7 linked regions of the Homo sapiens genome follow. The protein of the gene in region 1 purifies or fractionates together with the protein of each later gene. This does not show direct contact. Each region holds a gene or a part of one and is shown in the gene's direction. Other genes may lie near its edges.

The links.
Region 2: the proteins of DHH (region 1) and ITGAV purify together in Homo sapiens (affinity purification with mass spectrometry; one large-scale study listed by BioGRID and IntAct). This does not show direct contact.
Region 3: the proteins of DHH (region 1) and VPS50 purify together in Homo sapiens (affinity purification with mass spectrometry; one large-scale study listed by BioGRID and IntAct). This does not show direct contact.
Region 4: the proteins of DHH (region 1) and FKBP14 purify together in Homo sapiens (affinity purification with mass spectrometry; 2 studies listed by BioGRID and IntAct, with this or other methods). This does not show direct contact.
Region 5: the proteins of DHH (region 1) and EIPR1 purify together in Homo sapiens (affinity purification with mass spectrometry; 2 studies listed by BioGRID and IntAct, with this or other methods). This does not show direct contact.
Region 6: the proteins of DHH (region 1) and MAN2A2 purify together in Homo sapiens (affinity purification with mass spectrometry; one large-scale study listed by BioGRID and IntAct). This does not show direct contact.
Region 7: the proteins of DHH (region 1) and SERPINA5 purify together in Homo sapiens (affinity purification with mass spectrometry; one large-scale study listed by BioGRID and IntAct). This does not show direct contact.

What each region holds. Positions count from the first base shown.
Region 1 is NC_000012.12:49,086,156-49,088,978, reverse strand, and holds the end of DHH (desert hedgehog protein preproprotein), read left to right. Parts: 3' UTR 1-2,323; downstream 2,324-2,823.
Region 2 is NC_000002.12:186,663,056-186,666,555, forward strand, and holds part of ITGAV (integrin alpha-V isoform 1 preproprotein), read left to right. Parts: intron 1-712; coding exon 713-780; intron 781-1,438; coding exon 1,439-1,586; intron 1,587-2,070; coding exon 2,071-2,163; intron 2,164-3,500.
Region 3 is NC_000007.14:93,294,866-93,298,365, forward strand, and holds part of VPS50 (syndetin), read left to right. Parts: intron 1-1,876; coding exon 1,877-1,971; intron 1,972-2,279; coding exon 2,280-2,378; intron 2,379-3,500.
Region 4 is NC_000007.14:30,020,203-30,023,702, reverse strand, and holds part of FKBP14 (peptidyl-prolyl cis-trans isomerase FKBP14 precursor), read left to right. Parts: intron 1-886; coding exon 887-1,038; intron 1,039-3,398; exon of another isoform or gene 3,399-3,490; intron 3,491-3,500. UniProt on the Homo sapiens protein: PPIase which accelerates the folding of proteins during protein synthesis. Has a preference for substrates containing 4-hydroxylproline modifications, including type III collagen. May also target type VI and type X collagens.
Region 5 is NC_000002.12:3,255,819-3,259,318, reverse strand, and holds part of EIPR1 (EARP and GARP complex-interacting protein 1), read left to right. Parts: intron 1-1,863; coding exon 1,864-2,020; intron 2,021-3,500. UniProt on the Homo sapiens protein: Acts as a component of endosomal retrieval machinery that is involved in protein transport from early endosomes to either recycling endosomes or the trans-Golgi network.
Region 6 is NC_000015.10:90,909,802-90,913,301, forward strand, and holds part of MAN2A2 (alpha-mannosidase 2x), read left to right. Parts: intron 1-288; coding exon 289-491; intron 492-699; coding exon 700-882; intron 883-1,045; coding exon 1,046-1,160; intron 1,161-1,369; coding exon 1,370-1,437; intron 1,438-1,583; coding exon 1,584-1,749; intron 1,750-2,241; coding exon 2,242-2,478; intron 2,479-2,715; coding exon of another isoform or gene 2,716-2,740; coding exon 2,741-2,863; intron 2,864-3,075; coding exon 3,076-3,190; intron 3,191-3,471; coding exon 3,472-3,500.
Region 7 is NC_000014.9:94,584,426-94,587,925, forward strand, and holds part of SERPINA5 (plasma serine protease inhibitor preproprotein), read left to right. Parts: intron 1-2,920; 5' UTR 2,921-2,937; coding exon 2,938-3,500. UniProt on the Homo sapiens protein: Heparin-dependent serine protease inhibitor acting in body fluids and secretions. Inactivates serine proteases by binding irreversibly to their serine activation site. Involved in the regulation of intravascular and extravascular proteolytic activities.

The sequences.
Region 1 (2,823 bases):
ACTGATGATCCATGGGAAACCTGGGTAATAATTTGCAATCGTCGCATAGTCATGGCCTGAAAAAGGAAGGGGGGCACAGTAAGAGGCTGGAATATTTCCTTACTGAAGGGCTGCTCAGAGAGAGAGAATGGATTCAGCCTGGGTGTATGTGGGGGAAGTAGATTCCCTAAACAAGGGCATATCAGCATTACAACCCGAGCTCCCCTCCTGATCGCTGGCCCTGATTGTTGTTTCTACTGGCTTGGTCTTCAGCGCCTCCTCCTCCCTCTCCCATTATCACCAGCTCTACTTCCCTAGCCTGGGTGTTTTTGGAACCTTTAGGTTCCAACGCAGTAGACACCTGGAATCCAGGCAGGCAGGTGCCCCTGAGTTAGGAATGGAAGCTCTGGAGGAAGCTGGGCTGCTCCAGAAGGGAAGTGTCTTGGGTGGAGGTGAGGCGGGGAGGAGGAAATAGTCGGGGGTTGTTGGTACCACCCGGAGCTCGCCCTTGCCAGTAGCCGCTGTGCGCTCCCATCGCACAGGGTCCCTGCTATACACCGCCCTCTGGTGGCCTTCAAGAGAATTCTAGGCCTATGCATATGGTTCTCTGAAACGGAAGGCAAGCGGTCTCAGACATGGAAGGGTGTACTGGACCTGCGCAAAGGAGCCCGCTCCCAGGAGGGAGAGATGATGGGTGGGCCTTGTTAAGCTGCCAGCGCTGAGTCACACATATCAGGAGCTGTCAAGGAGTCCACCTGCTTCTCCTTGGGCAAGTCGTTCCAAACCATGGCACTTTTACATCACTCCTGCCTAGTTTAGCTCTGTGGTTCCTGGAAGCTGCAGATGCCCTACTAGTATACCTGTAGTAGCCCAGACTTCCTTATGTATCAAAGTTGCCGCCTCATGTCCCTCACCCTCATGACCCTTGAGTTCAATTGTCAAGGAGGTGAAAGCATAATAGGGTTCCAGGTAGTGCTTGATAAAGGCAATATTTGGAAGCAGGTCAAGTTTACCTTTGGTGTCCTTCCACCCACTGCTGCCCTCAACCCACACTGAGGCTCTGTTGCCACCTTTGTTTTTCCGGGTCTCAGAAACACATCCCAAGCTGTGGACCTTTCCTACTTTCTAAACCTGCCCTTGTCTCTTTTTATCAGATCTGGTGCCTTCCTGTCATGTCACCACAGGTGATGACTAATCCGATAAATGAATTAGTTGTCCTATGTTGATGGGCTCCTTGGTTTTACTGCCCTTCCCAGGTAATCAGGTAATGCATATATATATACATGTATTTTTTAAAGAGACAGGATCTCGCTCTGTTGCCCACGCTGGAGTGCAGTGGTGTGACCTTGGTCCCCTGTAGCTTCAACCTCCTGGGCTCAAGCAATCCTCCCACCTCAGCCTCTCAAGTAGCTGGGACTACAGGTGCATGCCGCTATGCCTGGCTAATGTTTGTATTTTCTGTAGAGACAGAGTCTTGCTACGTTGCCCAGGCTGGTCTTGAACTCCTGGGCTCCCGCCTTTGCCCCACAAAGTGCTGGAATTACAGGTGTGAGCCCCTGTGCCCAGCAGTAATACATATATCTTACAGTTTTAACCTTTAACCATAAAATCATAATGGTGATGATTCCTAGCACTGTAATAAGTTAGCTAGGGAGATATTTCAGGACAAGGAGAACTCATTGGTTTCCCTTAAACTACATCCTGTAAGTAACTTTCTAGGCTTGAGGCTTACCTCTCAACCCTCACTTCCTCCCTTTATTATCTTTATTCCTTTGAGGCCCCTCCTAACTCTCAAAAAAAAAAAAAATCCATGACTTGCCTTCAAGCGGCAATGCGCACCATCTTGGTGCAGCAGGTGGGCATATTCACTTGGCCATGCAACACCTCCCAATTGCAGCACCTTTCACCATCAACAAAATAGGCGATGATGATTTGGCTTAGAAGCCAGCTAGATCTGGGGATAATGATACCTCCGTGACAGGATGGTTGAGAAGGATTGTGCTGGATGTGGAGTAGGCGCTCAGTAAATGTTTTCTATTCTTTGGCCACTTCTGACTGACTTTGCTGCCTTCCGATCACTTCTTTCCTCACCACTCCACTAAAAGCATCAGTCGTGCAAACTTTCTGGGGTTTTGTCACAGCACTTTCAGAAGCTGGAGGTATACTAGCAGCATTTCTGTAGTAGTCCAGACTTCCTTACATATAGAAGTTGACTCTTCATGTCCCTCACCTTTGTGACCCTTGAGCTCAGTAGTCAAGGAGGTGAAAGCATAATGGGGTTCCAGGTAGTGCCTGAAACTACTTTTCTGAAGAAGTATAATTAAAAGTAATCTTGTTTTGAGAATTTATGAAGCATTTTGTGATCACCCTGGCAATACCTCTCTGCATATTGAGAAATCAGAGTTGAGAACCACTGCCGAAAAGTTTCAAGTGACCTGTTTATCTGCCCAGAATCCAGTCTTTTATTCCTTCTTTCCTTTCTTCAAGCAGGATTTACTGAACATCTGCAGTGTAGCCCTGTATTCCCCACTGAAAAACACAAAAGGTTAAGAAACAGCTTCTTCCCTGGAGAAGTATACATAAACACAGAAAATATTTAACATTGTTACTTAATTTGGATGAGCTGAACCGGTGGTAAATGCCATATTAGTACAGAGAAGGCCTTGTGGAGAAAGGAGGGCCTGACTAGGATGTTGAAGCATGTGTAGGCGGAGGAGACTGGAAAGGGCATTCCAGGCAGAAGGAACATCATGAGCAAGGACTCGGAATCTGAGATGAAGCTGTGCAACTTATTTAGAGCAGAAGACTGGAAGTTTAACAATATGTAGCTAATGGTTACTGAGC
Region 2 (3,500 bases), on another chromosome or scaffold:
CACTGTTTCTCTCTTTTGGGTGTTTCCATTTTGCTCTAGCTGGAACATTCTCCTGGCCAGATCTAGTGGGGAAAAAGTTCAGGTCTTTGTTTTTTTCACCTACCCTGATTGGTTAACTATAATGCTTCAAGTTCCTTTTCCTTCATCTTTTTCCAAATGACCATGCAATGCTGGACTCATTTTATCCAGTTTCTTTTGCCCCTTGGTCTCTCTGCCTGTCTGAATTGCTGCTGAATATCTACAGCTCCTTATTCTTTTATCCTCTGCAGCCCTATTTCCTGATATTGGTAGAGGCACAGTCCATAATGAGAAACTCTAGAAGGGAGTCTATTTTGCCCAACATCTCACAACTTAACTAGCAGCAGGGTAAAAATGAAGCCTCATTTCTTGGCTATTACTTTCTTTTCTACACCAGTCTTCATTCAAATATGATAACAGCTTAATCTGAGATAAAACTGAAAGGTTCCAAGGAACTGTATCATATCCTATGAATCTTTTTCTTCTTTCTCTTTCTTGACTGGCTACACTGACCTGCTTAAAAATAAGTGGCCATGGTCTCTTTTGCATTCAGGTATACAACAAACAAGCTGATGAGTATCTGAAAATATATACATGTGTACATATAGGCTTAACCACATAGATATTGATAAACACTGCTTATGCCACCTGCATTGGTATTTTTCATGTAGAAAAATAAAATGTTTTTTTCTAGGCTCACATTCTACTTGACTGTGGTGAAGACAATGTCTGTAAACCCAAGCTGGAAGTTTCTGTAGATAGGTAAGTTTTGCTTGAAATAATAATGTAGTAAGAAATTTAAATGGAAGGGCACATTTTTCTATTCAAAGGACTAACATATTTTAACGAGAATTAGTTATCCTGGAGGGTAATGCCTGATTTTCTATAACACTAAAACTATCAATATTGAGCTTCTAAAGAAAATATCCACTGTGTTTTCACTAGTTGCCTAGGTTGAAAGAGTTATTACCATTCAACTTTGGGTAATATCACAAAATAATATTGTATCATTTTAAAGATACACTTCATCATAAACATTCTTTGAACTCAAGGAATATCCTTACCATTTTGTAAGGCATATGAATTATAAAGAATATTGTGAGAATTATGACACGTGATTAATTTAGCTTTTAGAAAAATATTGGGGAATTACAAAGTACATGTAATTCACTTCAGTAATAGATATGAATGATAGTGATATATTAGTGGCATCAATGTTTATTTTTATTGAGAGAAGCATTCGATTTGCACCCAGTGTGCTATTTTCTGTTTTCTATCAAGCTGTGAAGTAGTCTTAAAATACCTTGAGACACTGTTGAACATGTCAGTGCTGTGTATTTATCTCTTCTTTCTTTGAACAGTCATACTTTCCCCATGTAGTCTTTTTTTCTCAGTCTGGATTTGTATTGTTAACTTGTAGTGATCAAAAGAAGATCTATATTGGGGATGACAACCCTCTGACATTGATTGTTAAGGCTCAGAATCAAGGAGAAGGTGCCTACGAAGCTGAGCTCATCGTTTCCATTCCACTGCAGGCTGATTTCATCGGGGTTGTCCGAAACAATGAAGTAAGCAGGCTGCCTCTTTAAAAATTGAAATGCACTCACGGATCTTATTAACATTAATGAGCTGTTCCCCTATTTAGTGAAGCACAAGCTTAGCTATTCTACCTAAGGCTAAATTGATAGACAATGGAGTGCCTATCTTACATAATTCCTTTTAAGCCTAATACTTTGCATAATGCATTGATATGACATTTTTAGAATTGCAAGCTAAGTGCCTGGAAACAAGGTTAGATAGATAAAGTGTCTAAGCCTGTCCATCAAATTATTTGTCAGAGGCTGTATGGTTTTGTATGGTAGTCCTCTAGGGATCTTTCAGAAACACTTCTGCATTTCCATGTGGCAATTGTACCCAATTCTGGCTTTTTCCTTACCTCCTGGTTTGCTCAACTAGATTTATTTGCTTAGGACAAGAAACTGAAATATCCAACTGCGTGATACTTTATTTCCTTTCATATCCATTTTTTTTTTTTTTTTTGGTCTATCAAAGGCCTTAGCAAGACTTTCCTGTGCATTTAAGACAGAAAACCAAACTCGCCAGGTGGTATGTGACCTTGGAAACCCAATGAAGGCTGGAACTCAAGTAAGACAATTTAATTAAACGGATTTTTCTCCCTGGCAAATAGAAAAGCATATTGTTGTCTGGGCTCATAGTAATTTTTAAAAATAAACACTTCAAAACAATGTCCTTAAATTGGTTTCGATATAATAGTTAAATGATTAGCAGAGTTTTGCTTAGTTTTAACTAAGATACGAAAACAATTGGTTGTGCTCCTACACGGTTTGCAATCAGCTGCTCTTTATGCCTCCTTCACTTTAGTGAATGGATGAGAACGTGGTTTAAACTAAGGACTGAAATAATAATTTTTGCTATTTTACACTGATGCCTTAATGGATCCTGAAAAGCTACTCTGGCAACTACCAAGACTGTCAATCCTAGGTGAGCTAGATTCCATCACAGGCCCCACACAGAGGATCAAAGTGAAGGTCAGTTAAATCAGGCTCCCCTTCAGATGGTGGAGCAGGGTGCCCAGGAGCTTGAAAAGAAGCAGCCAATGGCTTGCTTTCCGAATCCTCTAAAAAGTAAACAAAATATACCTTGTAGAATTTCTAGTAGCAAGGACAAAATGGCAGCATATGCTGTGTGACTTTTTCAATAGAATTTATTTAATGACTTATTGATACTGGTACTTTGAAGATCTGTGGTAATACAGGTCTAAATATTCCATATTTCTTTAGTATGTTTTCTATTACAAGTCATTAGTATTTCTAGATGTATGGTATCTTAGGGATGAGAACTTGAACAAATTACCCTAAGTTCAGTTTTTCACGTGTATTCAATGTTTTATTAACAATGAGCATGCCTTTTATTTTCTCATATTCTCATTCTCTCTAACTTTCTGGTTATTATATAGTTTCTGCTTATTACAAGTAGCCAGCTCCAGGTTTTGTGGAGTGGGAGGCAGAACCCAGGAAGTACTGTTTTTATATGTCATTTGTGTGATCCCCAAGAAGCCTTCTTTTTTGTACCTGGTGGTTCAATTGTTTTATTTAAAATCTACCAATTTTCTGCCTGCAGGAATTAGGATATTTGGTGTTGGGAGTGTTATGAGAGGTGTGTGGAGAAATTCTGGTTGTGGCCCTACTCATGCCTTCTTTAGCCATGTTCCCTTACTCTAGTAAACCATCCATTTCTTCTTTCCTGGCCTATGAACACAGCACATACTTTGGTGGTTAGCTTCGTGTTATCAAATTATTGTACCCAGTTGCTAGACTTTCACTGGATCAACAAACATTTACTTTTGCACTTTTTAGAAAGATGGTTAGTATTATAAGGAGGTATAATTATGATTAATAATTGTTGTTAAATAGGCTCTCTTATGGATTGGTCCAGGTATATTAAGTAAAATAGGTTTGATA
Region 3 (3,500 bases), on another chromosome or scaffold:
TGAGTACATCTTTTGTTTTAGAGGCCTAGCAAATTTCCACTATCATAGAGAAATGTATGCTTTCTCAGTGAGATGTTCTGTTTATTATTTCATTTATCTGTGTTTTCTTAATTTTTTTTTCTGTTAATTTTAGAAAAGGAGTAACTAAGTAGATAGCATACTTAGGTCAGATTATAGTTTAGAATGAATAATTCTTTTTTTCTCAGTCAATGATCTTTGTACCTTGAGGGAATCTTACATGCTTATTGGCTGAATATATCTGGTTTTAGTCCATTTGGGCTCCTATAACAAAATATTCTAGACTGCATAGTTTATAAACAGAGAAGTTTATTTCTTAGAATTCTAAAGGCTGGAAGTCAGAGATCAGGGTGCCAGCATTGTTGGGAGGGAGGGCCTGCTTCCTGGTTCATAGACATTGTCTTGCTGTATCCTCAAATAGTGGAAGGGATGAAGGAGCTCTCTGGGGTCCCTTCTATAGGGGAACTAATCTAATTAATGAGGGCTCTACCTTCACGATTTAATCATCTCACAAAGGCCCCACCTTCTAATATATTATCACCTTGGAGGTTAGAATTTCAGCTTCGGAATTTTGGGTAGACATGAACATTCAGACCATAGCAGTATCTTATTAAGTTTTTCTTTACAATTTAGTAACTCAGTTGTTGTAATCAGATAATTTGTTACTTCTTAGATCACAGTGTAATTTCTTTGAAGATAACTTACTCTTTTTGGACTTCTTTGAACCTTGGAAGACTATAGACCCTTTGGCCATGTTATGGTCTTTTAAAATGTATTTTTGATTTTTCTAATGAGGCTGATCTTTATTTTGACCATCTTTTTTTTTCTTTCTTTCTTTTGATTGATTGATTGATTGATTGAGACAGGGTCTCACTCTGTCACCCAGGCTGGAGTGTGGTGGCAGAGTCATGGCCCAGTGCAGCCTCGACCTCTTGGGCTCAGGTGATCCTTCTGCCTCAGCCTCCTGAGTAGCTGGGACCACAGATGTGCACCACCATGCCTAATTTTCTTAAATTATTATTGGTGGATATGGGGTCTTGCTATGTTGCCCAGACTGGTCTTGAACTCCTGGGCCCAAGTGATATTCCTGCCTTGGCCTCCCAAAGTGCTGGGATTACAGGCATCAGCCACCATGCCCAGCTTGACCATCTTTTATAGGATATGTTTTGAAAAAAATTGTTTAGGAAAATATATTTTGAAAACATAAATTTCTTCATGAATCAGTTAATATTTATAATTTAGTGCTCTTCTAATTTTTGATAATTTTGTATTCGATATGCTATTTGATTTTATGCTTTAGTATTTAAAATTTATTTTTGTGGTTGTAAGAGGTTTGACATATATTTTCTCATTTGTCTATATTAAACTCATAACCATATTAAACATTTATTAAAATTAAATATTTAATTTATCATTAATTGTGGATTTAGGCTGACTGTTTTCTGAGTATTATGCATAAAAAGAAAGGAAAATCTTATAGTTATTGAATATACACCCAGGATCAGATATGATTTGTTTCTGACTTAGTCTCCCAATAGGCCTTAAGTGTACTTTGGTAAAATTTTACAATCTATGATAGAATTTCTGGTAATTCAGTGTACTTTGAAATACTGACTTAGCACTTTATGTAGCTACTTTCCATTCAGTTTGGCAACCTGATGGCATTCCTGGTATAGGAAATGGGATTGTCTCTATTACATCCCTTAAGGATGTTGGCTATTGGCCTAAATAGATATTCGTTAACAAATTAGGAATATATTCCTGTCTCATTTTAATCTGGAACTATAGAGTAAATGCTTCTGATAACTTATTTTCTATATTTTGGGTTTGCTTGATTTTCTTTTTCTTTGCCTTACAGGATGTTCAGCTAAAAGTAAAAACCTACTTGCTTGGAACTGATTTGTCTATATTCAAATATGATGATTTCATCTTTGTTTTGGATATAATCAGCAGGTAGTATTTAAGATCTTGTCTTATTCTTTAGTTTGAGTCATTCAACCATGATAAATCATGAGCTAGTGAGTTATCATCTATAACTTCTTTATGGAAATGAAGATAATTTTTGCTGCTAAGTTTGTGAGTGTATTTAAATATTTCTGCCCTTTGGGTGTTTGTAAACCTTTATGGATTTGTGATCTTTAGAATTTTTTCACATGTCCAAATTTTAGTGATTTTTTTTATCTTTGAAGAAAGAGAAACCACACTTCTTTTTCTCTATAAGGCTGCTGCTGAAATTTACTGAAACCTTTTTATCCAACTAGGTTGATGCAAGTTGGAGAAGAATTTTGTGGTAGCAAGTCTGAAGTTTTACAGGAATCTATTAGAAAACAAAGTGTCAATTATTTCAAGAATTACCATAGGTAAGAACTCTAATAAGATATGAATCGACTTATTTAGGTAATGAGAATACTTTTGTCTAATACTTAATCTTATAGCATTAATTGATTTTAAACAATTACTTTTGAATTTGAATGTGTTGTAGCTTTTTTAAGATGGTTAAGGATTTTTTTAACCAAAATATGATGAAATGTTCTCATTACATATTCATTGTACATTTTAATATATTTTTGTCTTGAGGGGCTTAAAATATTGAACTGATTTTTTAATGAGTAAAACATGATTATTATATCAAGGTTCACAGAAAGAATTTGGCCACTGTTCCATACCTGCATACATATGGGTGTGCTTATAAGGAAGTTAAATCAGTAGAGGCAGTGCTCAGTGAGGGGGTGCTTGAGAGTATCTATCTTTTAAATGTAAGAAGGATTCTAGAGGAGAGGATGTGATATTCAGAATTCCCCTATAAATCCAAATTTGTATACTGCATTGCTTTGCAAAACAATCACTGCTAATATTTAAAAGAGTGACTAGGAATGGTTTGGGTAGTGGAGGAAGGTGGGAAAGAATGTTTATAATAGCAGTGTGATTATATCCTTACAGCAGCAATAAATTGAGGGAAGGGAGAGCTAACATGAGATTTCTCTTGATATAAGCTAGACCCCAAGTTGTATCCCTTTTGTCCTTTGAGTTGAGTTTCATCTTACTTTTTATTCTGAACTTTTACTTTTTACAATTGAATTTAAGTTTTGATTTCCTTGTTATTTGGTCCCAGAGAGAGTCATGATTTGAAATTCTGCTTTTTCTCCTTGTTCATAGTCAACACCTGCTCACAGTGATATATGCCATGTCAAAAGAGAGATGACTGAACACCAAACCATTGATTAATTAATTATTATATATATTTGAATACAAGTTATCTCTGTTAATTGTAAACAATGAAGTAAATTGTTTGAAAAAGATTTAAATTGAACTATACTAAAGCAGAGCCTTTGAGTTTCATGACTGAGAATGTTTAAAAATTTTTTAAAAATTTAATTGACTAAACCTCAGGGAAACAGTGGGAAGGGACCAACAGGAAGCCCTAACACTGCCTTTATTTATAAGTTCCTTGTCTGCTAAAACTTAAGCCCTGACTAAAACAA
Region 4 (3,500 bases), on another chromosome or scaffold:
GCCATGATTGTGAGACCTCCCCAGCCATGTGGAACCGCGAGTCCATTAAACCTCCTTTTCTTTATAAGTTACCCAGTCTTGAATATTTCTTCATAGCAGTATGAAAATGGACTAACACACCAGTCCTTGAGGGGCTACTCTTCCAGACTTTCCTATATAGCCCCACTGTAGACCCCTGAGGAGGAAACTGGGCTAGGGTCTGAGTGGGGATTTAGGGATGAAAAGCAGCCTTTTCTACCCGTCAGAGCCATCAGCAGGCCATAGCTAAGGCAAGTTTGTAGGCAGGATATAAGACACTGTGCTTCTCACTCTTCATATCTGTGTGCATATGGACCCACATATGTTGGCAGTAAATTCTCCTTAGCCTTTCAATCTCCTTCCCAAACTCAGCCATTTTTCCATTATTTTCTCCTTGTTCTGCAACCTAGTGGCCTTCCTGGGACAACATAACTTTGTGATTAAGACCTTGAACTTTGGAGTTAGGTTTAAAGACTGGAACTTAACCTGTGTTTCCTCATCTGTGCAATGGGGTAGTAATGGTACTTATATTATAGACTTATTGTAAGGGTTAAGAGGCAAAAAATAAAATAAAATTTAGAATAATTCCTGGTATACAACAAATGTTCAAATGGTTGTTGTTTTTATTATTTCCTCTGTCTTTCTTAAGCCCAGTCAAGTATGTGAAATTTGCATCAAGAAAGATGGGCAGTGAATTGAATTCCTATAAACTTGACTTGGAGGTGTGTGTGTATGTGTGCAAATACAGAATTGCTGTATTTATAAATTTTTAAACTAATAAACTTAACCACTTACTGGTGGGAAAATGCACTAAAGAAAATTTTTTAGAGTTAATAAGGAGTTCTAATGTGTTTTATTTCTATCATAGTCACAAACATAACAATGGTCAGCCCATTTGGTTTACCCTGGGCATCCTGGAGGCTCTCAAAGGTTGGGACCAGGGCTTGAAAGGAATGTGTGTAGGAGAGAAGAGAAAGCTCATCATTCCTCCTGCTCTGGGCTATGGAAAAGAAGGAAAAGGTAATAGTATTTCTGTATTTTTCTTACTATAGCACTAGAGTTGTTCTCTGGATTAGGAGACAGAAGTTAGAGTCACTATAACTTTTTTTTTTCCCCTGGAAGTTAATAGGGGGTATGTATTCCTTTAGCAACTGTATTATGTCTTGAGTATCAATTGAAATGGCCAGTTTAAGGCCGTAATGTCTAAATGGGCAACTATGCTAACAATAAAAAAAGAACATTGAGGTCTATTAATACTGTTCACAAATATGGTGGGTTGTTTTAATTGTGATAAAATATACATAAAATTTTTCATTTGAACCATTTTTAAGTACACAGTTCAGTGGCATTAAATACATTCATGTTATTGTGGAACCATCACCACTATCCATCTTCAGAATGTTCTCATCTTCCCAAACTGAAACTCACCAATTTACTTTAACAATGCAGAGAGAAAGATCCATTAACGTAAGTGTTTGGATGAGTTGAACATGTGAAATATAGATTATTAAAGTATTGAATGCATTTTAGATGTGGGTTATATATGGGTTGTACTTCATGAATATTAAGTCTCCCACAGCAAACTGGGAGTTCTTTTCATTCCCGTTTTTAAATTTATTTATAAAGTTTTTAACAATGTATTTAAAAAAAATCATAGAGTGACATGAAATGAATTTAATTCTCCCTGTGTCACAAAGCAGAAGCAAGCTGGCTAGCTGGTCCGGACAGCTTTTGTACTAGTTTTTCAGGGCAGACACATATCCTGCTGTTCAAGTGAGAACCCCTGCAACTTTCCAAAGAGCTGCTTTGTGATATATATCAAGAGGTCTGGGCCAGGCATGGTGGCTCACACCTGTAATCCCAGCACTTTGGGAGGCCAAGGAGGGTGGATCACTTGAGGTCAGGAGTTTGAGACCGACGTGGCCAACATGGTGAAACCCTGTCTCTACTAAAAATACAAAATTAGCTGAACGTAGTGGAGTGCACCTATAATCCCAGTTACTTAGGAGGCTGAGGCAGGAGAATTGCTTGAACATGTGAGGCAGAGGTTGCAATGAGCCAAGAACGTGCCACTATACTCCAGCCTGGGGGACAGAGCCAAACTCCATCTCAAAAAAAAAAAAAGAGGTCTGAAGATGTCTATATGCATTTATTCTATAATTCCTTCAAACCTAAGGGAATAATTAGATATCAGGAAAAAAATTTGTGAACAGGGATGTCCATAATTGCATTGTTTCTAAGCAAAAAATTGGAACTGTCGTAAGTGGTATACTGGTAAGAATTTAGCTAAATAAAATATGGCCCAGTTATTTAAAATGGCATTTCCAAAGAGTTTAAAAATTATATCTGAAATGCATGAGATACAGTATTATATATAAAAGTAGAAAATAAACCTATAGTATATATGATAGTAAATATAGGAAAAGGTACATATACATAGAAAGTTAATCATAAGGAAATAAATAAGAATGTTAAAAATGGACTGTGATACTGGGAATCATATTTATTTCTGGTTTTATCATCCAAGTATGTGCTCTACAATGAGCATGTATTACTTACATAATGAAGAAAAAAAAGTTTAAGTAGTCATCAGAACCAGACAGACAACTACTCTGATATAGTATAAATATAGACTTCATAGCATCCTGAAGTCTAAGGTTAACCACTGACAAAAGTGAGGAGTCAGGATTCACAGCCCATTTCCTGAGAAGGAAAATAGATGCCATATGGCAAGCATTATATATTCCAAAATATACAAATCTATACAAATCTTGTTCATAGGATAAGATTAACTAACCAAATTCAATTCTTCTTTTAGTCATAATCCTCTTTAGAGAAGAAAACCAAGTATCTAGAAAATTTTTTCTGATGCTGAGAATGTTTTCATTTTATCTTTATTGTCTCACCTTTAATATTTACATACAGTAGTTCCCCTTTACCTGTGGTTTCACTTTCTACCGTTTTAGTTACCTGTGGTCAACTGCAGTCTGAAAATATTAAGGTATTTTGAGAATGAGAGACAGATTGCATTCATATAACTTTTATTATGATATGTTGTTGTAATTGTTCTATTTTATTATTTTTAATCTGTTACTATGACTATTTTATAAATTAAACTTTATCACAGATATGCATGTATAGGAAAAAGCATTGTATGTATGGGGTTTGGTACTATCCATGGTTTCAGGCATCTAATGGGATTCTTGGGACATATCCCAGTGGGGACTACTGTACGTTGTATTAGTCCATTACTCTTTCTCATACTATATTTAACTCAAGTTTACTTCACAATAAGTAGAGATCTAAATTTGAGTCATTTCCTTCAAACTGAATGCCATGAAACTAATTTTTCTAATCTGTATTTAACACTAATTTTGTAGTCTTTTAGTACATGCTTGCATGCCTCTTTTGGAAAGATACCAGTTTTATCAACAACCTAGCGCATGTCACATCTCTGTCTAGATCTGAAATGGTAAGCTTCA
Region 5 (3,500 bases), on another chromosome or scaffold:
AAAGAAGGAACTTGTTGGGGATGTGGGGGGGAGTGTCTGCCATTAGTCATTTCTTCCACAGAATAGCTGTTTTTACTATTCCCTGCCTTTGTCATCTTGTGTATTTCATTCATTTTGAAGTGCAGCCACAATTTAGTGCTCCCATTATTAGTTCTATAACTTGTAAGATTAGACATGTATTTTTCTACCATTTAGAAAGATTAAGATAATCTACACCTCTGTTGGGTTAGTGTGTGCTAGTGGGTTAGGCATTCATTTTTTTCTTTCCTACTCCAAATTGCCAACTTTCCCTTTGGTTATTTTTGTGTTTCCAGGAGTGCCATTGCCAATCTCGTGGGCTCTGCAGAAAGATCGTGTAACTGAAAATTTCAGCAAATAAATAAATAAATAAATAAATAAAATTCCCTTGTAGACAGAACTGTCTGTACACTCCATTTTTGTAAAGTTGGAAGTGTGAACATTATATGAATATATGATGGAGTTTTTTTTCTTTAAGCCATAATTGCATGTTCTTTTAGACCCAATATGGTATATAAAATGGTCACTGAATTTGGAATCAGAAAATCCTGGTTGAAGTCTTAATCTTTTAACTTCTTATCATTCAATCATGGTTAACAATGGTATTAATAATATTCACAAAGTTAGATATTTTGTCATTGAGTTCGTTGCTATATTGCTTGGTCGATTAGTTGATATTGAGATCGCAAGAGCATCATCACCAGTAAGTGATACATTTTCGATTGTAACCTAAGGTCGTTGTTATTTTGTAATGCCATGCTGTTTTCCTTCTTGTACTACCCATGAAATGTTTTTTTATGTTCTAACGCAATATATAATATTTTTATGTTCTTCACTTGTTATCAATTGATGATTTAATGTTGAATCCTGTTTGCTAGTTTATGATTATTCATTAAAGGCCATCTTTAAAAGGGAGAGGTGTTTAGCACATATTCAATTGAAAACTAAATGGAAAGCAAATTCTGAAAGGATTTATGTTCAAGAATTCAATGTTAAATCTAATTTTTAAAAAATTTATCATATTGAGAAATTTTCTAGAGCATCAGAGACCTTCCTTGGAAACAAGTGACCCCAGTCTTTCTAATGCAGGTTGAGTCTCTATCCACAAAGTGGCTTTTCTAGGTACTCTAGATTCCTGGAGCATCTTGAAAATAGAGTATCAAGACTCAGGGAGACCGAGCAGCCACCAGCAGGATCGTGTAAGGATGGCACTCTCATTTCTAGGAGAAGAGGCTGTATTGATGGTGACATGACCAGGCTGGGCTGCCACCTGCTGCCCACCAGGGCTCCAGGCCTCAGCATGCGATGCCTCTGAATGGCATTACCTTCCGGTCCCAGATACTCATCACTTTAGGTAAACTGAGGCAGAATAACATGCGTGACAGGATTTCCGAATGGAATATCGCTCAGTGTGCCTAATAGTCATTTAAGGTGATCTCATACAGCTATGGAGAGAAAACCCGTTTAATGCCAACCTTAGACACCAGCTGCGTGCGTGGTGATTATATCTTTAGTCCCCCATTTTGCTCCCTTTTTTGAAGAACTATTGAAGAAGAACGGAAGGAAATCGATTTTGAGGAAATTAAATTTTCTTTTGAAACAGCATGATGGTTTTTAAAACAAAGAGAAAGTGGGGAACAGGATGCTGATTACGAACCGTGCCGGGTTCTGCCTGCCGACTCAGGCTGTGCTTCTCCCTGCTCCGTCTTTGCTGCCTGCAATCGTACATATTTTAAAGAGCAGATGCGCGCTGCTTATGGATTTGTGTAAATGTGCGTGTGCTGTCTGCAGAATGCGGGGCACACCGTGCTCTGTTGACATTATCCATTATGCTCTGTTGCTCAGCTTCAGACAGCAAAGTCCTGACATGTGCAGCCGTGTGGAGGATGCCGAAGGAATTGGAATCAGGCAGCCACGAGTCCCCTGATGATTCATCCAGCACTGCACAGACCCTGGAGCTGCTCTGTCACCTTGACAACACAGCCCATGGCAACATGGCCTGGTAGGATTTTGCATATTTCATGCGCCCAGAACGAGCCTGCAGGTTGGCCAGGTGCAGGAGCTTGTGCAGATTCCTTTGCAGGAGCCACCGTCCACACCTCGGAAACGCTCCTTTCTTTTAAAAAGCTGCGAGAATTTGATTTTTAATTTTAGTCCCTGTGTTTTCTAGATTAGCCGCATTGACAGAAATGTAGCCAGCGCGCCTGCATCCCCACTTTCTCCTCTTCATCTAAGAGGAGTGTTGCCCGTGGGGACCTGCCAGAGGGTAAAGGGTCAGGCACTGCACTGCCCTCGAGCGCTGTGTGGCTTTTCAGCTTGGTCAGCATGCACTTATTCACACTCACATGGCAATTATTTACCACTTCAGGTTGAGGCTTACAATCCCTTCCTCCCGTGGACAAAGCATGAATGCGTGGTGTGCCTGTGGGGCTGCGTGCCCAAGCCCGCCCGTGTCCGGCATGTGGTGTGTCATTCACGTGGCTCCCTGGCCAGTCGCTGCTTCATGAGCTTGGAGGCCTGGCTGTGTGCACCCACTGGTCATTCCCAGGGACCTCTCCACGGCAGTCACAGCTGCTCTCTGAAGGCCCTGAGGCCTTGGTAAAAATTAAGAAGCCGTATTTTCTAAAGGAGATTGCGGGGGCATACTGTTGTTATGAGTGTTTACAATAACGATAGTGATTGTTTTACTTAATGCATTAACACATACACATGTGCGTGTGTGTCTGCAAGAGACAAATCGTTTGTACAGTGACTTCTGTCTCGTCAGTTCTACCAATTAAATAAATTTAATACAACAAATACTTATTAAATACCTGCTACAGAAACCCTGCCAGGCTCCAGGGACACCAAGGTGACAAGTTAGAGGGCCCGGCCTCCGAGAGTCATGATCTCCACGGGGAGACCCAGGGTGTACACAACTAACTGTGGCTGGGCCAGCCGTGGCGTACCCCGAAATCATTACGAACTGTACGCTGTGGCCCCGGAAGGAGCAGCCATTAATTGTTATTAGAGGAATTGAAGAGGGATTCGCTTACGAGGTGGAGTTTGGAACGGGGACTGAGGACCGACTCAGGTTTCCCTCGTCAGGTATGGAGGAGAGCAGTGCTGAGGGTCAGGCAGTCTGTGGCTCCGGATGCTCTCTGTGTATCAGTTTGTGGTGGAATTATTTTTATACTTGCTGTGCTTCTACCACGTCGGTGGATATTTCTTCTTACGGAGATGCTCTGAGTATTAAAATCACAGCCAGTCTTGCACAGTAAGGGGAGGCAGATGAAGAGTCCCAAAGTCCCCAGGAGTGATTGCCACTGCTGTCACTCCCCGCCCGAATGCAGGATCTCTGTGCAAACCACACAGCACTGTTAGGAGTTCCACATTTCAAATGATTGCCACATCCCCAGCAAATAGACATTTGTGCGCATGTGTGTGATGCACATGTGCACACATTTGTGCTTGTGTCTCTGTGCACACGTATGTGTGCACAT
Region 6 (3,500 bases), on another chromosome or scaffold:
ACTGTGTTAGCCAGGGTGGTCTCGATCTCCTGACTTCGTGATCCACTCGCCTCGGCCTCCCAAAGTGCTGGGATTACAGGCGTGAGCCACCGCGCCCAGCCGAAGGTGCCCCTTTTATGTCAGAATTAATTCCCAGGCTCCCCTACTTCTGTTAAGTCTAGAATGGCAGGATGTACAGTTCCTGCTTCTGAGGCCAGAGCCCCTGCCTCACCCCCAACTGCAGCACTGTGGCCACAATTTGCAGGAGGCTCTAGAACTGATGGGAGTGGGTTTTTGGGGTTCCCACAGGCCCAGTTTGGCACTCTTTCTGACTATTTTGATGCCCTGTACAAGAGGACAGGGGTGGAGCCAGGGGCCCGGCCTCCAGGGTTTCCTGTGCTGAGCGGGGATTTCTTCTCCTATGCGGACCGGGAGGATCATTACTGGACAGGCTATTACACTTCCCGGCCCTTCTACAAGAGCTTAGACCGAGTCCTGGAAGCCCACCTGCGGTGAGACCCTGTCCCCGCTTCCAGGCTGGAGGGGGAGAGTCAGCCTTTGGGGTTTAAGGAGGGGCTGGATTGGCTCAGAAGGGAATAGATAGGCCCAGAGGCCAGGGCAGGTAGAGGAGGGGTGGGAAGGAAGGAGGCTGCACTGGCAGAGTGTGGGTGGGCCCTGGCTAGTGGTGCAGGCTGGCAGCTAACTTCTCTCTCTGGGCAGGGGGGCAGAGGTTCTGTACAGCCTGGCTGCAGCTCACGCTCGCCGCTCTGGTCTGGCTGGCCGGTACCCACTGTCTGATTTCACCCTCCTGACGGAAGCTCGGCGCACATTGGGGCTCTTCCAGCATCACGATGCCATCACTGGCACGGCCAAGGAGGCTGTGGTGGTGGACTATGGGGTCAGGTGGGAGCCTTCTCTTTTCCCTTGTAAGCTCCCCTGCTCACTGTCCCAAAGAAAGGACATTGGGTGGTCAGGGGGTAGGCCGGCCTAGGGCTTGTCCTGCTGACAAGGCAGACAGCTTCCCTATGGTCATCTTCTCTCCTTCCCTCTCCTGCGCCACCCACAGGCTTCTGCGCTCCCTTGTCAACCTGAAGCAGGTCATCATTCATGCAGCCCACTATCTGGTGCTGGGGGACAAGGAGACCTACCACTTTGACCCTGAGGCGCCCTTCCTCCAAGTGGTGAGCCCCTCCTGGGTCTGCATGGGGACCCTCTGGTGTGTGCAGGTCCCATCCCAAGAGCTGCTGGATGGGGGTGCCGCTTCTCTTTTTCCTTCCCCATCCGGATGAGTTCTGTGCCCAGTGCAGCCGCTGGTCCACACCTGGGACAGGTGGGGTGGGAGGAGGCTGAGCCCATGATGGTTCTTCCCTTCCGGCTCACTGAATTCCAGGATGACACTCGCTTAAGTCACGACGCCCTCCCAGAGCGCACGGTGATCCAGCTGGATTCCTCGCCCAGGTAACCTGGACTACGCCATGTGCAGAGAGGCAGAGCCATTCCCTGGCTCTCAGGCCCCTCTGCCCCAGCATGTGCTGAACCAGTGCAGGGCGCTTGCCCTGGTCGGAAGCAGCAGCCTCCTGGGTCAGCCCACCTTCTACGCACAGGTTTGTGGTCCTATTCAACCCACTGGAACAGGAGCGATTCAGCATGGTGTCCCTGCTGGTCAACTCTCCCCGCGTGCGTGTCCTTTCGGAGGAGGGTCAGCCCCTGGCCGTGCAGATCAGCGCACACTGGAGCTCTGCCACCGAGGCGGTCCCTGACGTCTACCAGGTGAGGTGTGGGCTTGTCAGGTGGGCCTGGCCCTCTGCCCGTCGTGGGCCCCTCCCCGCCCGGCGACGCCAGCCTCCCACCCTCCTGCTTGTGGCCCTGCTACTCTCCAGGCTGAGGACAAGTGTCCTGGGGAGGGGGTTGTCCAGAAGACAGGCACTCTTGGGATTTGAGCGTGTCCTTGAAAAGAAGGGGAAGGTTGGTATGGTAATAGTAATGGTAAAAATAGCAGTTATAATGCCCCATCATTCAGTCATTCAATGTTTATCGAAAGCTTAATGTGTTGTTACCGCTTCATACTTTTTCAAATATCACTTGAGAATCATAAAGTCTGATGAGGAAGAAAGGGCAAATCAGATCACCTCCACTTTGGAGGAGGGGCAGAGGCCCAGCGGGTGCAGGGGCTTGCTCAAGCCCTCTGTTAGTAAGCGGATGCCTCAGCACCCCTGTGGCGAAAGCCGTGCCCCCACTTCCTCACCCCTCCTGTGCCCACAGGTGTCTGTGCCTGTCCGCCTGCCAGCCCTGGGCCTGGGCGTGCTGCAGCTACAGCTGGGCCTGGATGGGCACCGCACGCTGCCCTCCTCTGTGCGCATCTACCTGCACGGCCGGCAGCTGTCCGTCAGCAGGCACGAAGCGTTTCCTCTCCGTGTCATTGACTCTGGCACCAGCGACTTCGCCCTCAGCAACCGCTACATGCAGGTCTGGTTCTCAGGCCTTACTGGGCTCCTCAAGGTAAAAGGCCAGGGTGGTGGGGAAGGGCCAGGGGCCAGAGTAGGGCGTGTGTGGTGGTGGCACTGTGCAGAGCGGCCTCCCGGCCCTGTGAGCATTCTGCCACCTGACCCACAGTGGACCGGGGCCTGGGCCATCTCAGCTCCAGCCTGACAGCATGGGGAAGCAGGGCACGGCTCCTTGGGGAAGCTATTCCGTGTCCTCCCAGGAGGCAGGCCTGACATGCTGGTGTGGGGCCAGGGGTCAGGGCTGTGTTTTTTGGCAGAGCATCCGAAGGGTGGATGAGGAGCACGAGCAGCAGGTGGACATGCAGGTCCTTGTCTATGGCACCCGTACGTCCAAAGACAAGAGTGGAGCCTACCTCTTCCTGCCCGATGGCGAGGCCAAGGTATCCTAAAGATGCCTTGAACAACCTGGCAGGGAGGGCAGGAGGGGGCACAGGCCTTCCCACAGGTTTATTGCTGCCTGCCAGGGGCCTTGTCTTTCCTGTTCAGCCCAGGGGTGTCTGGGAATAGGTGCTCTCTTGCCCAGCCCTGGGCTGGCACCTTCCTGCTTTGCCCTCTGTGCTGTAGTTTCAACAGCAATCTGCTCTTTCTCTAGCCCTACGTCCCCAAGGAGCCCCCCGTGCTGCGTGTCACTGAAGGCCCTTTCTTCTCAGAGGTGGTTGCGTACTATGAGCACATTCACCAGGCGGTCCGGCTTTACAATCTGCCAGGTGAGCCCTGCATATGAGGAAGGGTCTGGAAGGAGGTGTGGGCTCCACAACTGTGGCGTATTCTTCCTTCTGCTGCTTCTCTGTTCATACCTCTGTTCCGTATCATTTGAGACAGGGATGCTCCATTCTCTTGGAGAAAAAGTCATCCAGAAATGCCCTGGGGATTTCTTGGGAGGTTGGACAGAGCCTCTCCCCAGCTCGGCTCTGATCCCCCAGCCCAGCCTCTTAGCTGTGCTTCAGCCTCACACCTGTCCATGCCCCCACTTTGTTCCTGTACCCAGGGGTGGAGGGGCTGTCTCTGGACATATCA
Region 7 (3,500 bases), on another chromosome or scaffold:
GGGTCTCAAACATGTAGCCCAGGAGAGCCTAAGTGAACCTGGGGCCCTCTCCAAACAGATCCTGGGGGAGACTCAGTGCACACCCGGAGAAGCAGCTCCTCCCCATCGGATCTCTAGTGCTTGGCAGGGGGCGGGGTCTTGAGGGGGTGTCCACAACACATGGCAGACTGCAGATGAAGAAACTGAGGCCCAGAGGGGGTGAGGCTTGCCCAGGGTGACCTAGTAGCTGAATAGATGGGAGAATGGAGGCCAGGGCCTCACTGAGACTCTCTGGTCAGCTGCCCCTGGGCTGTATCCAATAAGGAAACTCCCCTGCTTCTGAAGCTGTTCTCGAAATTATCAGCTCAGTGTGACCCTGTGGGGGGTTGAGCCACATTGTTTCTTTAGAAGCATCTCCATACATGGCTGGTTCCAACCCTTGGCAGGAGGGACCATATTGTGCTGTAAAATAGACTCATTTAGAGAAGCCGGAGATTAAAGCACCCACCTATGTCCTTCAAAGCTCTCCAGGCAAGTGCCATGGTGGGAACAGGTAGGGAGTGTCAGTGGGGGGAAGCCCAGACTCTGCTCACTCATTATCTGCAGATTAGGGCTATTGTTGGTGGCTACTAAGTCAGGGATTTCAAAATCAGGAAGATGCAGCCAGGAAAAGAGGAGGCAGGACTCTGCAGAGGAGGCAGGACTCTGCAGAGTCAGAGTGATAACCGAGTCTGAGTCCAAGCTTTGCCAGTGTTAGCAAGCGACTCCATCTCTCTGAACCTCGGATTACCCATCTGTAAAATAGAGCTAGCAGCAAGATGTACCTTTTTGGGTGGTGCAGGGCTGAAGGAGTTGGCACAGTGCCTGAAAGAGGGTGCGGGCAATGCGCCCAACTGCTGTGGCTGCTGGGTTTGGTGCCAGGTTCGATTCTGCAGGCAGAAACTTCTACATGAGGCTCCTTCTCGGAAGGAGCTCAGGACACAATTTGGAGGCTGGGCTGGCAAGGGTGACCTGCTGGAGCTATTCAACTTCACTTAAAGACAGGCCTGCAGTCCAAGCCTGCCCAATTCCTGAGACCATTCTCTCTCCACTGCTGAGCCCCACGGCCACTCTGCAAGGGATTTCCCACCCACCTGTTTGGGGCCCTTTGGAGTTTGGTTTTAATTGGGTCACGGGATGCTGTGACAGGCTGCCCCTGCCTGGTGGGGATCTGGGGTCACTGATGACATTGTGCCCATGGAGAGAGCCCAGCAGAAAGGGATTCCCTCCAAGGCGACACACAGGGCAAAGCTCACATCAGAAGCCAGGCAGGCCCTCTGCACCTGGTAATTAGCCAGCCTGGGTGCTGTCAGGCTCACACGTGTGTGTGTGTGTGTGTGTGTGTGTGTGTGTGTGTGTGTAAAGCATGTACCCTATGGTACAGTTGAGAATATGGAGGCCTCAGATGGGGCTTTTGCCAGAAACTGCCATGCCTACTGCTCACACTTCCATAGCACGTGCCCCCAAGCACCCCATGGTGTAGGTGCTGTTATTATCACTATCTTACAGTTATGGAGCAGTGGCTCAAGGTGTAACTGACTTGCCCAAAATCACACTACAAGGACACAGCAGGGCTGAGATTTGAACCCAGGCAGTGGCTTCAGAGCCTGAGCTGTTTCCTACTGCAGAGGGAGGAGGCAAGACTTCTACCCGTAGCCAGATGGGGAGGCATGGGCACAGGAACGGCTCTTGGGTGAAGTGGAGGGAGGAAGAGGAGGACTGAAGGCCAAGGCCACGTCAGGAGTGATGGGAGACCCCACAAAGGCCTCCCTGAGAAGAGCTAGAGACAAAGATGAGTGCCTCCTCATCTGGAAGATGAAAAGATGTCTTTGCCTGCATGGGCTGCTGTCACAAAGTCCCAGGGGCTAGGGGGCTTCAACAACAGAAATTTCTTTCTTTACAACTCTGGAAGCTGGAAGTCTGAGATTAAGGCACCAGCAGGATTTGTTCCTTCCAAGGCCCCTCTCCTTGGCTCACAGGTGGCTGCCTTCTCCCTGTCTTCACCTGGTCTTCCCTCTGTGCATGTCTCTATCCTGATCTCCTCTTTTTAATTTTTGTGTAAGGACGTAGTCATATTGGGTTGGGGCCCACTCTAGTGACCTCATTCTAACTCAGTCCCCTCTTTAAAAGCCCTATCTCCAGATATAGTCACATTCTGGGGTATTGAAGGTAAGGACTTCAGCATATGCATTTTGGGGGCACAATTCAGCCAGAACAGGAGGACGGTGGGGATGTCCACATGAAGAGGTTCAGGCAGAATTCCTTTAGGAGGGGAAGATGTCTCTCTGTGGGACAAGGGTGGCATGGAGCAGCCCCTGGGGGAAGGAGAAGGGGACAGTTTGCATACTGGTATTCTGCCTACCCCAGGGTGGACACTCACTCAGCGTTTGCTGAATGAACAGGGCAAGGCCAGCAGTGCTGATGGTCCCAGGCATGTAGCTGGTCTGAGTTCATAGAAGGACCACAGCGCCCTGCCATGTGCCAAACCAGGACACCAGAGTGAAGGCCAGAAGCTCACATGGAAGCAGCTTAGTTCCCTGGTAACCTCGAGATGCTGATGAGACAGAGCAGAGCAGAGGGAACCCTCTCCCTCCATATCCCATCCTCCAAAATGTGTCCCTTGATGTGGATGGGTAGACAGGATTCCTGCCCTGGCAGCCAGACCCCTGCCTTGGGTCTGCACCTCCTCTCCCTCCTTCCTCTCCCCGTCATCCCTAAATCTTGTCCTCGAGCCACTGCCACCCTGTGTAAACCCTCATGCCCAGTCTTGCGGGTGCCATCCCTTCTCTTTGAAGCTGAATGGACCAAACATACCCATTGAGTGTTGGGTGGGGACATCTCTGGAAAGTCAGCACCTGGACCAGCTCCACCCCTCTCTGAGGACACCTTCTTTCCCTTTCAGAACAAAGAACAGCCACCATGCAGCTCTTCCTCCTCTTGTGCCTGGTGCTTCTCAGCCCTCAGGGGGCCTCCCTTCACCGCCACCACCCCCGGGAGATGAAGAAGAGAGTCGAGGACCTCCATGTAGGTGCCACGGTGGCCCCCAGCAGCAGAAGGGACTTTACCTTTGACCTCTACAGGGCCTTGGCTTCCGCTGCCCCCAGCCAGAGCATCTTCTTCTCCCCTGTGAGCATCTCCATGAGCCTGGCCATGCTCTCCCTGGGGGCTGGGTCCAGCACAAAGATGCAGATCCTGGAGGGCCTGGGCCTCAACCTCCAGAAAAGCTCAGAGAAGGAGCTGCACAGAGGCTTTCAGCAGCTCCTTCAGGAACTCAACCAGCCCAGAGATGGCTTCCAGCTGAGCCTCGGCAATGCCCTTTTCACCGACCTGGTGGTAGACCTGCAGGACACCTTCGTAAGTGCCATGAAGACGCTGTACCTGGCAGACACTTTCCCTACCAACTTTAGGGACTCTGCAGGGGCCATGAAGCAGATCAATGATTATGTGGCAAAGCAAACGAAGGGCAAGATTGTGGACTTGCT